2 separate regions of the Homo sapiens genome follow, and region 2 is linked to region 1. Evidence: fine-mapped expression QTL. Tissue or cell type: whole blood. Region 1 holds a variant in brackets; the other region holds the start of a gene. All regions are shown on one strand. Distances are from middle to middle.

Evidence for each region. PIP is the estimated chance that this variant, and not a neighbour inherited with it, causes the effect.
Region 2: RIC3 starts here. The variant in region 1 is fine-mapped to the expression of RIC3 in whole blood (TOPMed, PIP above 0.99). The same link has a PIP of 0.9 or more in aorta, esophagus mucosa, lung, skeletal muscle, spinal cord and tibial nerve.

Annotation. Positions count from the first base shown.
Region 1 is chr11:8,203,397-8,211,576 of GRCh38, forward strand. No RefSeq gene overlaps it. Among named protein-coding and RNA genes, the nearest start is that of RIC3-DT, 38 kb to the left of the region's middle. RefSeq lists an enhancer at 1,103-5,740. The variant C/T (reference allele first, on the strand shown) is at 3,055.
Region 2 is chr11:8,164,510-8,172,689 of GRCh38, forward strand. RIC3 (RIC3 acetylcholine receptor chaperone) reads right to left here and starts at 4,516. Exons shown (of 6, transcript NM_001206671.4): 1 at 4,357-4,516. The coding sequence starts at 4,480. RIC3-DT (RIC3 divergent transcript) reads left to right here and starts at 4,561. Exons shown (of 5, transcript NR_187234.1): 1 at 4,561-4,680; 2 at 5,376-5,479.

The DNA of each region.
Region 1 (8,180 bases):
TCTCTCCTAAGTGTGTCTCTGAGTCTCTCAATGTCTCTCTCTCCATGTCCACGTTCTGTTGTTGCCTTTCACTCCCTCCCACCAATAGCTGGCTGTGGAAGCAACTCCAAGCATGGGCCAGCACCCAGTGGCCTCCTGAAACATGACCAGAGCAGATTTGATCTAGGAAAGGAAGACTAGGGTATCTTGCTCTTGCACCAGCTTGTGCAGGGCAATATCCATGATCTGGGATCACACATGCACCCCTCAGAGAGTTGGGGTCAGGACTCTAGCCTGGACAAGAGTACCTTTGGCCTCCGTTTCCAGGATTTGGTGAGACGGGCCAAACCCATGTTGTCCAAAGGAGCACACTTGCTCAGGGAGGGATCAAGGAGCCCCATGAGAGCCAAAGTGACATGCGTGAACATATGTGGTTGGGGAGGAAGGGCGTATTTTTGGTGTCTGGGCAGCTTTAGAAGCTAACTGCTCACGTGGTAGGTGAGGGCCTGGGCTAACCCATGGGTTCTTAGGTCAATGGTTTGCTTACTTAACAGAAGGCTATTTTCCTCATTAGAGTCTCGTGAACACATCAATATGGAAGTTATTTAACCTAGAAGAGTGATGGATAATGGTTGCTTGCCTTTGATATTCTTCAACAGCCTTTTGATACACTGAGAGCCCCGAGGAGGGCACAGATGAAAGGGCCATTTGGTTGGGACTGCAGCATCAGCTCTGCTCCTCCCCATGCTGATTGCTGGTGACTCCGACAGTCCGCACCAGTCAATCTACTTGGCTGAGCTTCCCCTGAGGCCCTGGCAGTTCTAGAAGTGCCTGGTAATCCTCCCATGCAGATGCGGGTGCACTGAAAACCCCTTGTTGCTAGAGAAGTAAATGACCCAGGAGGAACATCACATGGGGCCCTTGCTGCTGATTCACAATGGAGACGAAGGAACTGATCACATTAGCTGGGCAACTTGGGATGTGGCCCAGGAGGCAGGAAGAGCTTCAGTAGCTCTAGCCCTTCACTCTGGTCTCACTCAGAATCACATCCATCTGGTCCTTGCCTGGAACCCCAGACCTGATAACTTCATCCTAACTTGCTCTGGGGTTCAAGGCCCTGCCCAGTCATCTGCCGAGGACAACATAATCCTAAGCTTAGAGCCATCCGTTGCTTGGACCAACTTTGCCTCACTAACCCCCCATGGCCCCTGTGGCTGAGGTCCTGTCACCTGCTGATACCCAGAGTTCCCTGTACCTGGCCCTGTTCCAGGAAGAGCATGGCTCTTGAATTCCTCTCACCAAGCTCCACTGTGTTGGATGAGGGGCGCTGAGGCTGGGTGCATTATGCCTGGTGTTTGCCCCTTACCTTACGGCCTCCTTGTTCCTATTGCTTGACTGGCTCCTATTCAACACCTGAGAGAAGGTGGGGTGCAGTCAGGATGGGGGACTCTCCCTACCCACCTCATCTAAGCTAACTCCAAGTCCAGATCCCACCAAAGCTCTCCTGCCTCAGTGAAGCGGTCCTGCTCATTCATATGCAGAGGCATGACCAAGCTGGTCCCCAAAGGCTTGCGGCTGGAACATGTGGGGCTGGGTTGGGAGAAGGCAGAGCCACGGGATTCTCAGCTCTACCTGAGAGGGCAGGCCAGGAAGGGTGCAGTGATAAAGAGTGCAGTGAAGTGAGAGAAGACAGGGCAGGACGAGAATGTAGGGGACCGAAGAAACACTCAGAAAACCTGACCCCATGATTTGAGCCCTAGTAAGACAATAAAGTCCCCTCCACCTTCTTTTTCCCTAACTTCCTTTTCTTTCTTCTCCTCCCTTCTCCTTCCATTTGCTAAGGGGATGTGCTGAGACTCAGCTTTGCTATGGGTCTCACGGTATCTAGGGGCTAGCCTGGGAGCCCACCTCCCATGTGGAACGTTGTTTCTATCAAACATGCATCTGGAAGGCTCACAACTGTAATCCCAACACTTTGGGAAGCCAAGGCAAGAGGATCACTTGAGGCCAGGGTTTGAAATAAGCCTGGGTAACATAGTGAGACCCCATCTCTACAAAAAAATTCTTTTTAAATTAGCCAGACATAGTGGCATGCACCTGTAGTCCCAGCTACTTGGGAGGCTAAGGGGAGGATCACTTGAGCCCAGGAATTTAAGGCTGCAGTGAGCTATGATCACACCACTGCACTCCAGCCTAGGTGACAGAGCAAGACACTGATTCAGAAAAATAGAAAATGCATTCTAACTCCCTGTGGATTTCTGGAGCCCAAGTCCCGTATAGCCAGAACTTGTCTACACTGTTTGACATGCGCAACCTTGTTCCACCCTGGGCAGGACCCCCATGGGCACGACCATGGCAGCCGGTATCCCTGTCTCTTTGCTGGCCAGTTCTAGTGTTCCCAGAGTACCTTGTGCTCAGGGTGCGGCTGAGGGAAAATGACCCTACACCGCAGGACCCAGGAATTTGTATATTTAATTCTCCCTCTCCCAGGTGGGAGCCTGTGTTAAGACACAGCCAAGGGTGGGAACCCTGATCTCGATAACTGCATCTCAAACTTCAGCGTGCCCTTATCAGAGTCATCTAGGGCAATTAATAAAACATAGACTCCTAGACCCCATTTCCAGAGACTCAGATTCAGGAGGTCTGAAGTGGGCCTGAGCATTTGTGTTTCTAACAAGCTCGCAGATGCTGGATGCTGCAAGTCCATGGACCACACTTAGAGTAACAAGGGTCTGATGCAACCTCCCATTTTCCTGAGACAAAGACCGCACTGAGAGCAAAGCAGGGCAGGGGATACCAGCGGCCCACCCAAACGCCCAAGTCTTTGAGGGCTCAGGTTCCCACTTTAGGAGGACAACAAAACTTACGCCAAACCGAAGCGGGCCTTGTTCCTGCATGTTGGGCCTCTGGCCTGGCCCAGAAGACTGGGCCATCAAGAGTGTTAACCGCTGCCATTGGCTGGTCCTTCACTGACAGCAGAAACTTGGCCAATGGCAATCAATCAGGGGGCCCGCGCTGCCTTAAATACCAGCAGAGCAAACAGCCTCAGACAAAGCTGCGCCGTGTATCAATTAC[C/T]GAGAGGCTGCGTGCTCCTCTGGGCGGAGGGAGCCGGAGCGAGCGGCCAGGGCTGCTGCCCCAGCTGATAAGGGCCCGCATTGTTCGGGGACAGCTGGCAGCCCGATAAGGGCCTGCTCGCCCGAGATAATGGCAGTGGGCAGGCGCCTCGCGGCAGTTTAGAATTTCTTGGGTCTCCAAGAAAGGTTCTATTAAGCCCACTGACCCCAATTGAATATTAATTAGCTAATTAACGGATTTATTGTTCCACGCCATTTCTGGAGAGGCCATTTTTTTTCGAGTGCCATTATTTTTGTAAATGATTTTTCGCATTGTTCATAATTGAATCTTTGCAGCTGCCAGCATCTTCTGCATGATTTGGCAAAAAAAAGGAAGCAGAAGCACTTAGGGTTTTTCCCCCCACCCTCCCTCTGAACAAATGTTTTCAGCCCCTCCTGCTAATGCTGGAGCGAGGGGGAAGTAGGGGGGCTGTCTCTGTTTCACGGGTTTGTTTTTTAAGCCGAACTGCAACGTCTGCACTCCTTTTTCCTTCCTTTTGTGGGCAGCTGAGGGCCGAGGCACTCCGTGCTGTCCCCACCAGCCCTTTGTCTGGCCGTCTTCAAAGTACTCAGACTTAGCTTTTCTCAGCCCAAACTTCTTAAAGCATTGTGCTTTCTATTAGGGAATACATAGAGGGAACAAGACCCGAGCTTGTCCCACCTCGAGCTCCCGGTGGAGGGAGGCCAGCCCTGAACTGCCAGGGGAGGAGCTCTAGCCAGCTGGGGAGCACTCCTGGTGGGCTCTGCCTGGGTTCCTGTCCCTATCTATCCCACCCTTGCCTTTCCTAGCTGGAGCCCACCCTGGGTCTGGTGGCTCTGGGGGTACAGAGCCCCCATCCCAGAGCCTCTCCGCTGCTCTTTAATAAGTCTTTGCTCCAAATTCCGCACCAGGGTTGCTTGACTCCCTGGCGCTGGCATCTGCCCACAATAAGTTGAACCAGACGGTCCCACAGGCAAATGGCTGATTGAATCAAACCCATTCCTCTGCAGAGGGTCTAGAAGAGGGAGGGTATGTGTGCTGGGATGGGGCTGGCGTGGGCGGCATAGCAATATCGTCAGGCAGCAATGGGGAGCCCCGTTGGACCTCGTAGACCCTTCTTCAGCATCATTAATGAAGCCAGGGGCAGGCAGAGGCTCCAGGAATATTAGTCAGGGCCCCCCTGTGGGCGGGTCTAAGGAAGGCTCATGCCCAGGACCTGCACCTGGCCGCCGGGGGCTGCAGAACTTTATTGGGATTTTTTATTAAGCTGCCTCTTCCTGCCGTCATCCCTGTCCCTATCCTGCTGTTTGTGCTCAAAAAGAGGAATTCCGAGGGCGTTTGTGAGCAGGGAGATGAGTCAGGAAGGAGTTCTTGAGTCTTCCTCTGTAGGCACTGGCTGGGACCACCCATTTCCTTTCCTCTGGAATAGAATCCAGCAGACAGACAGACTGTCCTGGGAATCTCCTCCAGGTGCAAAAGTTGTCGAAGAAACTATATGAGATAATCCGTATGTTAATTAGCCAGATTTAGTCACTCCACAATGTATATATTCTTCAAAACGTCATGCTGTACATGGTAAATGCATACTTTTTTTCCTGTCAATTAAAGAAAAGTTGTAGAAGGGACCCCAAAAGTCTAAGAACTGAAGGTGGCCCTTAGAGTTGGGGAGGGGAGTCATTCAGCCTCTGAACACCTCCAGGGTGGGAAGCTCACTACCATCAAAGCTTTCATATGGAGAAGGGTCGTCCTTACACAGAGTCTGTATGCTCTTCCCTATACCCCACCCATACAGTCTCCCTCTGCTCATGACACCCATTCAGCTAATAATAGTAACAACCATAATAACACCTAACGTGAAGTGAGGATCTACTACGTGCCAGACGCTGTTCTAGGTACTTTAATGCATTATCCCATGTAGTCTTCCTCATGTCTCTGTGGGATTTTTTTTTTTTTTTTTGAGATGTAGTCTGGCTGTGTCACCCAGGCTGGAGTGTAGTGGCACAATCTTAGCTCACTTGCAAGCAAGCTCTGCCTCCCAGGTTCATGTCATTCTCCTGCCTCAGCCTCATGAGTATCTGGGACTACAGGGGCCCGGCACTATGTCCGGCTTTTCTTTTTTCTTTTTTTTTTTTTTTGTATTTTTAGTAGAGATGGGGTTTCACTGTCTTAGCCAGGATGGTCTCGATCTCCTGACCTTGTGATCTGCCCACCTCCACCTCCCGAAGTGCTGGGATTACAGGCGTGAGCCACCGCGCTCGGCTGGTAGGTAGGATTCTGAGGCAGAGAGATGTGAAGTAAGCTATGCAAGGTCACTGATGAAAGTAACAGAGCCAGACACCAACCCAACGTTGCTGGATACCAGTGCCCCCACATGTGACCTCTCTGCTCCACAGTCTGGAAAGCCATGGCTCTAAGACTGCTCTGCTGCGGGGAAGACAAGCTAAGAGGCTGTAGGTGCTTCTCATCTGACAGGGTCTCCCTTCCCTTTGCTGCCTTGGACCTTCCTCCTGAAGCCCAAAGTCCATAGGCGATCTGGCTGGAAGACAGCCTGTTCCTTTCCATGTTCTAGACACTATACTCTGTTAATGCAGCCTGGGTTGGTGATAAAGTTCTTGGTGAGGGGTTGCACCCCTCTACAGCACCCCCCTTACCCTCCGAGGTTCAGACTTATTGTTTTGAAAAGGAGTCCCCCAAATCACCTTCTCCAGTCCTCAGAATTTTGGCAGAATTTGGTCTGATCCTCCCCAAGCAGGTTCTCCTACACCTCCAGAATCTGCCAGGGACTCATTTGATCCCAGTGAGCTGACAGCTGGAGCCCTCCTCTGGGAGTTACCAAGAGAGGGAGGCCTCAAGTCAGAGGCCGGCGAGGCTGCACAGACCTGGCTCTTCCCTTCTGTGAAGGTGACCCATCAGGACACCAGCACCTCCTGCTGGCCGCCCTGGGGGCTGCAAGCCACCCCTTGGGTATTTGGGAGACATTCCTTCCAGTTTCTTATTTTGCAAAGAGGACTGGGGCTCAGAGACAGGAAGAGAACTGCTCAAGTTCACCCAGTCACACTAAGGGGGCCAGACCATGCCCTGTTCTCCTCTGTCCCCAGGGAAGAGCCAGGTGAGTGTCTGATCAGGGATCCGGGAAGCCAACAGTCATACTTGGCTCAGAGGACTAATGGTATCCCTCTCAGAGCCTGATTCTCTGGAAGAGACACCTACTGGCCTACTGGCCACCCCAGTCAGGCTGCCTGAAGTCCTGCAATCCTTCCATGGCCAAGTCCTGGGAGTCAGTATTGCTTAAACCCCATCCCCTGCCTCTTGGATCTTCCTAACTCAATATACTCAAGACTCTCAACAGGAATCTTTTCATCAGACAAGACAACCCAGGCTCCAGCAAGCAAATTTCTGTCCATCTGGGAATGCCACCACTGACAGGGCTTATGGGACCTGGGCAGGAGTCCCCAGTCCATGGGTCACCACTCACAGGCTCAGCAACCTTGGGCAAGTCACATCTTTATGACCATCAATTCCTTAGCCATCAATTATCTCTCTCTCTCTCTCTCTAGAGAGAGAGAGAGAGAGAGAGATTTCTCTGTATATAGGTCTATATAGAGAGAGAGATCAAATCCTGAATCTTAAAAGAAATCTTGTTACATGTCATATATATATGAAGCTCTCGCTCTGTTGCCCAGGCTGGAGTGCAGTGATACAATCATAACTCAGTGCAGCTTTAAACTCCCAGGCTCAAGCGATCCTCCTGCCTCAGCCTCCAGAGTAGCTGGGACTACAGGAGCACACAACCACACACTTGGTTACTTTTTACGATTTTTTTGCAGAGGCAAATTCTCACTATGTTGCCCAGGCTGATCTCGAACTCCTGAGCTCAACCAATCCTCCTGCTTCAGCCTCCCAAAGTGCTGGGATTACAGGTGTGAGCCACTACACCCAGCCTGAAAAGATATATTATGAACTGGCAGGATAGAGGTTACATTTGGTAACCTGAAAGGGGGCACTGAGAAGAACTTGGGGGATATATTATAAACTGGAATACATTGATGCATATGAACTTTATTTTCTTTATTTCTTCTAAAAAAAAAAAAACGGGATACATGTGCAGAACATGCAGGTTTGTCACACAGGCATACATGTGCCATGATGGTTTGCTGCACCTACTGATGGGTCCGCTAATTTCCCTCCCCTTAACCCCCAACCCCCAACAGGCCTTAGTGTGTATTGTTCCCCTCTCTGTGTCCATGTGTTCTCATTGTTCAACTCCCACTTATGAGTGAGAACAGACGCATGTGAACTTTTAAGACAAAACCTGAATCTTAAAAATAATCTTGTAATATGGCAGACCACACTCCAACACTCTCTGATACCTCTGATCATTGGGACCCTTCAGAGAAAAACTGTGAGACTCACATATGAAATCGCTGGTGCACAATGTCAGGGGGTCCCGATGGGATAACTAATAATAGTAGAATTTTGGGCTCCAGGCAGATGGGTTGGGGGATATTCTGGGGTCTAGGGGAGCCCTGCCAGATCACAGAGAGGCTTCTGTTTTTTCTGGAGGCAGGACCAGCTGCAAGCGTCCAGCTACCAGGGGACTCATGTCTTTTCTAAGAAAAGAGAGTAGGGTGAGTAGCTTCAGGCTTGGTCTAGCAAAGCCCCGTGGCCTTTGGGTTCATTCTTCATTGAACCCAACTGTCTTACACAGGATGACTCAGATTTTACTTCAGGAAAAATGACTTAGCTACACAGAGCTTGAGGAGCAGAGAAAGGTGGATGGAGATGGGGATGGTCAGAGGGAGACAGGGGCAAAAAAGGAGGGGGAGGGAGAGAGAGAATGACAAGGAGGACACAGGGAAAGTCACAGAGGAGAGACAGAGAATATTGCCAGGGAGAGGGCTTTTCAATGGGCAAGGCTGGACATCAAAGCCACCAGCATAGGGCATCAGAGTCCCTTTCATGTGTCATCCAAGGCAGGGGAGGGAGGGGAGGACAGCTTTGATGGTTCTTGCAGTCCCAACTAGGCCATGCCTTGGGAGCCAGAACAGGCTGCACTGCACATGCTACCTTCAGGTCCTGCTTCTCAGAGCCTCTCCTAGCTGGTGCTT
Region 2 (8,180 bases), 39 kb before region 1:
TTACACCTGTAATACCAGTGCTTCAGGAGGCCAAGGTGGGAGGATCACTTGAGGCCAGAAGTTCAAGACCAGCCTGGGAAATATAGTGAGAGCCTCATTTCTGCCAAAAAATTTAAAAATTAGCCAGCTATGGTGGCACACACCTGTAGTCCTAGTTACCTGGGAGGGTAAGGTGGGAGAATCACTTGAGCCCAGGAGTTTGGGGCTACAGTGAGCAATGATGGCACCACTGTATTCCAGCCTGTGCACCAGAGTGAGACCCTGTCTCTCTCAAAAAAAAAAAAAAAAAAAAAAAAAAGACAAGTAATCTGACTTTTAAAGAGGGTTAAAAGGACCTGAATAGACATTTCTCCAAAACAAGATATACAAATAGACAAAGAGTGAATAAACACACAAAAAATGCTCAATGTCATTAGTCATCAGGGAAATGCAAATAAAATCACAATGAGATACCATTTCATTCCTACTAGGATGGCTATCATCAAGAAGACAGATAACAAACAAGTATTGACAAGAAACCAGAAGCCCTCTTACACTGCTGGTGGTCATGTAAAATGGTACAGCTGCTTTGGAAAATGGTCTGGCAGTTCCTCAAAAGGTTAAACATGTAATAACCATACAACCTAGAAATTCCACGCTTAGTTCCAGCCACACTGGAATGCTCACATTTTCCAAATGTATACACTCAAGAGAAATGAAAACATTAAGTCTACACAAAAATTTGTACACAGATATCAGTAGCAACATTATTCATAATAGCTAAAAGGCAAAAATTCAATGTCCATCAATTGATTAATGAATAAATGAAATGTGGTATATCCACACAATGAAATATTATTCAGCCATAAAAAAAGTACTGCTACATGCTACAACATGGATGAACCTTGAAAACATTATGCTAGTTAAAAGACGTCAGTCACAAAAGATCAGATATTATATGATTTCATTTATACCAAATGTCCAGAACAGGCAAATCTATAGAGACATAAAGTAGATGAGTGGTTGCCTAGGGCTGGAGGTGGGCTGGGGGATTTGTGGAGTAATAGCTAAAAAGTACAGGGTTTCTTTGGGGGCTGAAGAAATATTCTAAAATTGGTTGTAGTGATGGTTGTACAACTCTGAATATGCTGAAACCCAATAAATTGTACACTTTAAGTGGGTGAATTGTATGATATATAAATTAGATCTCAAGAAAGCTGTTATCAAAAAAAAAAAAGACTTCCCTCCTCTATGTTCTATGAAACCTGTTTTTTGGGGTTTTTTTTTTGTTTTGTTTTGTTTTTTTTTTTGGCAGAGTCTCACTGTGTTGCCCAGGCTGCAGTGCAGTTACACAATCACACCTCACTGTAGCCTTGACCTCCAAACTTCAAACGATCCTCCCACCTCAGCCTACAGAGTAGCTGGGGCTACAGGTGCACACCACCATGCCCAGCTAATTGAAAAAAAACAAACTTATTTTGTAGAGATGGGGGTCTTGTTATGTGGCCCAAGCTGGTCTCGAACTCCCAGGCTCAAGCAATCCTTCCACCACAGCCTTTCAAAATGCTGGGATTACAGGCATGAGCTGTCACACCTGGTTTATGAAACCCTTCTTAAGTCCCAATAACACTGACCATTGCATACATGTCTCCATTGTTCCCTGCGCAGACTTGAGTAACTGTGACTGACACTCTTGCATTTATCTGCTAACATGTCTGTTTTGCATTTATCTGTTGACATGTCTACTTTCCTTTACTAAACTGTGGCCGCCTCAAAGCATGGAGTTCGCTCATTTTTTCTTGGAATACATAGTGTCTATACACTATGTGCACAGTATGTGATATGGTACATCATAAATATTTGTTAAAAGACTATCTTAAAGGCTTTCATGTGGAAAGGGAACTGTGCTTGTTTCATGCACATCAATGGGCAAAAATGGAAGACATAACAACATGTATTTTTAAGAATTTTCAAATACTCAGGGTTATTCCTTTCTTCAAAGCAGGGATTTCTGGGTTCTGAGAATTCTCTGAATTGATACTGAAATTCTGAGTACAATAAGAGTATGTACCTTTTTCTAGAGAGAACATACAGTTTTAGGCTGAGTGCAGTTGCTCAAGCCTGTAATCCCAGCACTTTGGAAGGCTGAGGCAGAAGGATCACTTGAACCCACGAGTTCGACACCAGCCTGGACAATACAATGAGACCCCCATCTCAACCAAAAACAAAAAAAATTTTTTTTAATTAGCCAGGCATGGTGGCATGTGCCTGTAGTCCCAGTTACTTGGGAGGCTGAGGTGGGAGGATCAGTTGAGCCCTAGAAGTAGAGGCTGCAGTGAGCTGTGATCATGACTCTGCACTCCAGCCTGGGTGACAGAGTGAGACCCAGGGAAAGGGAAAGAGAAAGGGAAAGGGGGCCAGGAAGAGAGGAAAGGAGGGAGGGAGGGACAGAGGGAGGAAGGAGAGAGAAAGAAAGAAAATACATAGCTTTTATAAGATTCTCAATGGTGTATGTAACCCCAAAATGGTTAAGATTTTTTGCTGCAAGTTTCAGTTACTGGAATGTACCATTCAAGGTAAGTTTTTTCCTAGGTTATACTACTTCAGTAGCTTCTCCTTGTCAAAAACAGAATTTACAGTATTGGTAGCTTAATAATCTTAAAGTATTTATTGACTGCCCATTATATGCCAGGTACTGAAGAAACAGTGGTAAACAAGACAAAGTCCCTACCCTTGCAAACTTACATTCTAGAAGGTGAAGACAAAAAAACAAACAAGTAAACACTTAAGAATATTCCATATCATATAGTGATGCCTATCATGAAGAATATAAAACATGATAAAATAGAGAATGATGGGAGAAAAGAGTTATTTTAGTTAGTGTCATCAGGGGAAGTCTCTCTGAGGAGGTTTCATTTGAGCAGAAATTTGAATGATGAGAAGGGCACTGAGGGAAAAGCACAGCACTTCAGGAATAAAGAGAACTGAAGGTACAAAGATCCTAACATGAGAACACTGAATACCAACACTTGAGTTCTCAAGGGAACAACCCATGTCTAATCTCCACTCTACATTTTCTACAACGTTCAGAAGAGTGTCTCCCACTCACAGTCAATAGTACTTGTTCAAGATAATTCACCATAATGGAAAGTAAAAAAAAAAAAAAAAAAGTTTTCGAAGAATCTTCACTGTTCAGGATCATCATGAATTGACTCTTCTTCAAAGTAGACAATATCATTAGACAAAGCAGGTAAAAATCTTTGGGATTATTGCAATAAGACAGAAAGGAAAAAAAAAGAACAAATACGCAAAGATGTTTTAGAAGTCCGTCCCAAGTGGATAGTCTTACAAGCATAAAGATTATCAGGCAAATTCTGTAAACAGAATTATGTGTTCAACCTGCCCTCCACCCCTAAAGCTTGGTGCTTTGCATTTATAGTGTGTATGATGCTCAAGAGAATGGAACTACAGTCAATGTGCATAAAGCAGACGGAAGTGGATTACAGTTCAAAAGGAGCTGTCCAGCAATCAACAGTTTAAACATTACTGGAAGTGTTCAGACACCGTAAAATCATGTCTCAAAGATATTACAAGGATAATTTACAGGAGAAAGTTACCAGTAGAACTTCATGACCTATAGAAAACTGTTCTGGTTCCTTCTCCCAGCCTTCAGCACCGTGCCTTTACACTCATTCTGTAAAAGGCCCCAGTGCAGCTAAGAGGATGAATTTTTAAACACCACATACATCATGCCAACAACGAAGAATTAACAGATAAATACTGTTTCAATAAGGGGAACGTAATAATTTGTTCATAACCACCTCAGTAACTGAAACTGGGGTTATTAAAATCTTCAAGATATATTTTTAAAGGCACAAGAAGAGCCTGAAGCAGTGAGCGCCCAGCACCAAGTTGAAAAAACATAACGACTTAAGGTTTGCTGTACCAATTCCATTTGCCTTGATTTCGTACCAAGCGGCGCGTCAGAAAGTACACGGAAAACCTAAAGAGGGAAACCCAACTGGGAACCCTTGACTCAAAGCACGTGAACAAATGGTGACGAGATGAGTTAAGCCAGCGGGGTAAGAGAGAAGGGACTGCGCCTAAACGGGAGTACGCAAGGCCACCTAGAGGATGCACAGACCTGCATGCATACGTTCCTGACCCTTCCAGCAGCAGAACCATCTGGGCCGCCACCCGCTGATAACAACGGAACCGTGGGCATTGGCCCTTCAACGCCGTCTCGCCCGCCCTCTCCAGTCAGTTTGGTGGATATTTCGGTGAAGGCTGCAGACTCTCAGAGTCACCCCTCCCTCAAGCAGCGTTCTCCGTACTCTTCGGCGCCGGGAAGCTCAGAGGGAGCTGGCCTGCTCTTACCTTCAGGTGTCGGCGGCGGCTCCTGCCGCTTCCCGCGGGACAGGAAGGCCTTGGGCAGCAGCAGCGACAGAGCCAGGACAAGCCCAGAAGCCAGAGCGACTCTCTGCACTGTGGAGTACGCCATGACTGCTCACGGTGGTCGCAGGTGCAGACGCCAGCCGGAACCGGAACCGGAACCGGAGCACGGGCTGCCGCTCCCGACCGAACCGCGGGCGGCGCGGACGGCGTCGCGCGAGGGACAAGGTGCGCGAGGCGCACGCATCTTCACCTCCACTGTCGGGAGTTGACCTGCTCCTCCCGCGTGGTTACCCGTCGCTGTAAATGGTACCCTCGCCTTCCCGTTCATACTAACTAAAAACTCCTCCCTCACTCCCCATGTTCATCTTTTACTGAGTCCTGTGCATTCTACCGCCTACACATCCGGCGGTCGTGCCCGGATCTCTATCCCCACTTACCACCACTGCCCCCCACCCACCCGTAGATCACAACATCCAGTTTCTCCTCATCTCCATGATCTCGCTGTCTTCCAGCTTCCACTCATGCCCCTCGCATTCATTATCCGTCTGCAGCCACAGGTGATAATGCTAAAACACAAGACTAATTCTCTTTCTCTCCAGCTTAAACCTTTTAACTCTCCATTATCTTCAGAACAATAGTTAAACTCCTTTCTATAACCTCAACGCCCTGCATGATCTGGTCTTACCAATGCTCCTTCCAAACTGGATGATTTGCTATTTCTTTAGCATATTGCTTGTCTTCAGGGAAGCTTTGCTTGTCCTGTTCCCACTGCCTGGAAAATTCCTGACACCATCTCCAGTTGTCAAAAACTTCTCTGAAGAACAGCTTAAAAACACTGCTCTCTCGAAACGTTTTCAGTCAGCCTCTCCTTTCTCTACAATCCCACCGTTCTTTGTTACTCTCTTCATTCGTTCATTTAACATTATTTTAGTTTTTACTATGTATTAGACCCTCAACTTGGCACTACAGGGTCTGATGAATAAAATGGATTCCCTTTGTAGGACAGATAATTATCCAAACAAAAAAAATGCAGGAAATATTCTGGATCCCCGAGCAGTCTTCTCAACTGGTACGAGGAAAAGTCAAGAAAAGCCCCTTTGAGAAGGTGAAATTGAGTTAGCTGTTGAAAAATGAGTAACTTATAGGCAGACAGGTGGGAGGGGTTAGAAAGGTATTCCGGAAAAAGGAGGCCAAAAAAATAAAGGCAAATCTGGAAGCTTCCTGGTGTGTTCAGAAAGCTATTGGTAATTCATTTTGGCAGGGCCATAGAGTAGTGACAGGACACGAAGTGCACAAATATAAGCAGGAGCTACATTGTGAAAAGCTTAGGTAGAACTTCCAGTTAAACATGACAGATGTAACATATGCATTTATCTTTGCTTTCCTGGGACAGTGCCCAAAAAGGAAAATAAAGAAATAAAGTATATAAACTACAAGACTAAATGCAATGATAGAAAACATGACAGCAGATGAGAAATGTCAATTTTGTAAGACGCACACAACACTGTCCAATAGACACATAATACCAGCCACATATGTAATTTAAATTTTTCCAGTAGCCACATTTAAAAAGTAAAAATAAGTAAAATTTATTTTAATAATATTTTAAACCAAGATAGCAAAAATATTTCAAATTTTATCAGCACGATAGTGTGGCTCGTTGGCGCCCACAGTAGACAGTGCAGGTGTAGAGCATAAAAAGTTAAATGCCTGTGGACTGAAAGCCTGTAAGGAGTGAACTAATTTGCCCCTCAGAACCCATGCTCTTAAGAATTGGAGGTACTGGGTTCCTTTAAAGCCAAGGGTGCAGAGTGGGTCTGAATGAAGGATTGGCTGGAAATCTGATTAAAAAGCAGTTGAGACTGGGCACAGTGGCTCACACCTATAATCCCAGGGCTTTGGGAGGCCAAGGCTGGAGGATGGCTTGAGGCCAAGAGTTCAAGGCCAGCCTGGGCAACATAGGGAGAGCCCTAATCTCTACCAAAAAAATGTAAAAAATTAACCAGGCATGGTGGTGTGCACCTGTAGTCCCAACTACTCAGGAAGCTGAGGTGGGAAGATCACTTGAGCCCAAGAGTTTGAGGCTGCAGTGAGCTATGATTGTGTGAAACCACAATTAATTATGATATATAAGATGATAATAATGCCTGAATGAAGCCAGTAGGGGCACCCACTCCAGCCAGGGTGACAGAGTGAGACCCTGTCTCTAAAAAAAAATTGTTTGATTTTTTTAAAGCAATGGATATCTTCTGAATCTCTTTCCTTGATTCATGCAGCCAGATGGGTGCCACTGCTGGCTTCACTCGGGCATTATTATCATTGATGTTATTAACATCACTAAAAGTTAGAGTACTAATTATGTTTTAGGCATCTTACATATCATAATTATTCCTCCCAATAACTTCAAGAGGTAAGCAATATTATTATATACCCATTTCACAGGTAAGAAAATGGAGCCCCAGAAAACATAATTTACTTGCCAACAATTACACAGTATAAACTGGATGCTATGATTTGAACACAGGCATGCTTACTCAAGAATTTGCCCTCTTAGCTACCAGGTTTACTGTCTGGGGAGGTTTAGTCAGAAAACCTCTGGACTCCTGGACTATAGATGCAGCTTAGGGAGGAGGTGACTAATGGGATGTGGTCTCTAAGAAATACAGAGGGGTCTGGAATGACCACACTCCCCCCCGCCCTCCGCCACCAAATTCTAGCTTGGGTAAATGGTAGACATTAATTCTATATAACATGATTTTAAGAATAGAAGAATCAGGTTTGTGAGAAAGATGAAGAGTTCAGATTTTGACTAGCTGAATTTGAAGTTCCATGAAATATCCAAGTAGAAATATCCAGTTGGATATATGGGCCTGGAGCTCAGAAGAGATGTTTGGGCTAGAAACAATAGGAAATCATCAGCCCATCTATAGTAAATGAAGTCTAGGAGAAGATGGCATTAGTGAGAGTGCTCATGTGAAGTTGTAAGAAGCCACAATGGAAACCTAGGTCACAACATTATGTTGAAGTTCCCATGTATGAGGACAGAAATGAGGTGGGAAATAGTGATCCAAGTGTTAAAATCTTTAATGAATGTGGAGTTACTACAAGGTTGGAAGGTGACAGGAACAGAAGAAGTAATGGGCAGCCAGATGACATGCTCTTCTAAGGAGCTGTGTTTTTTTTTAATTGTTTAAAAATTTTTATTTATTTATTTATTTATTTATTTATTTTTGAGATGGAGTCTTGCTCTGTTGCCCAGGCTGGAGTGCAGTGGTGCAATCTCGGCTCACTACAAGCTCCGCCTCCTGGCTTCACGCCATTCTCCTGCCTCAGCCTCCCAAGTAGCAGGGACCACAGGTGCCCGCCACCACGCCCGGCTAATTTTTTTGTTGTATTTTTAGTAGAGATGGGGTTTCACTATGTTAGCCAGGATGGTCTCGATCCTTGTTATGCACCCACCTCAGCCTCCCAAAGTGCTGGGATTACAGGCATGAGCCACAGCGCCTGGCCAGGAGCTATGGTTTTTAAAGGAAGAAGAGGAAGAAGCAATTTGGAAGCAGCAAGGGGAAACAAGTTGGGCATCTATTCTATTCCCAGGCTTTAAGCTGTGGGAAGAAAAATAGCTCTTACTTTGGGAGATCTGCAAGGGAAACAGAACCCAGAGGCAACAGCCTAGTTTTCATTAGAGGAAGACAGGCCGGGCGCAGTGGCTTATGTCTGTAATCCCAGCACTTTGGGAGGCCAAGGGGGGCGGATCACGAGGTCAAGAAATCAAGACCATCCTGGCCAACATGCTGAAACCCACC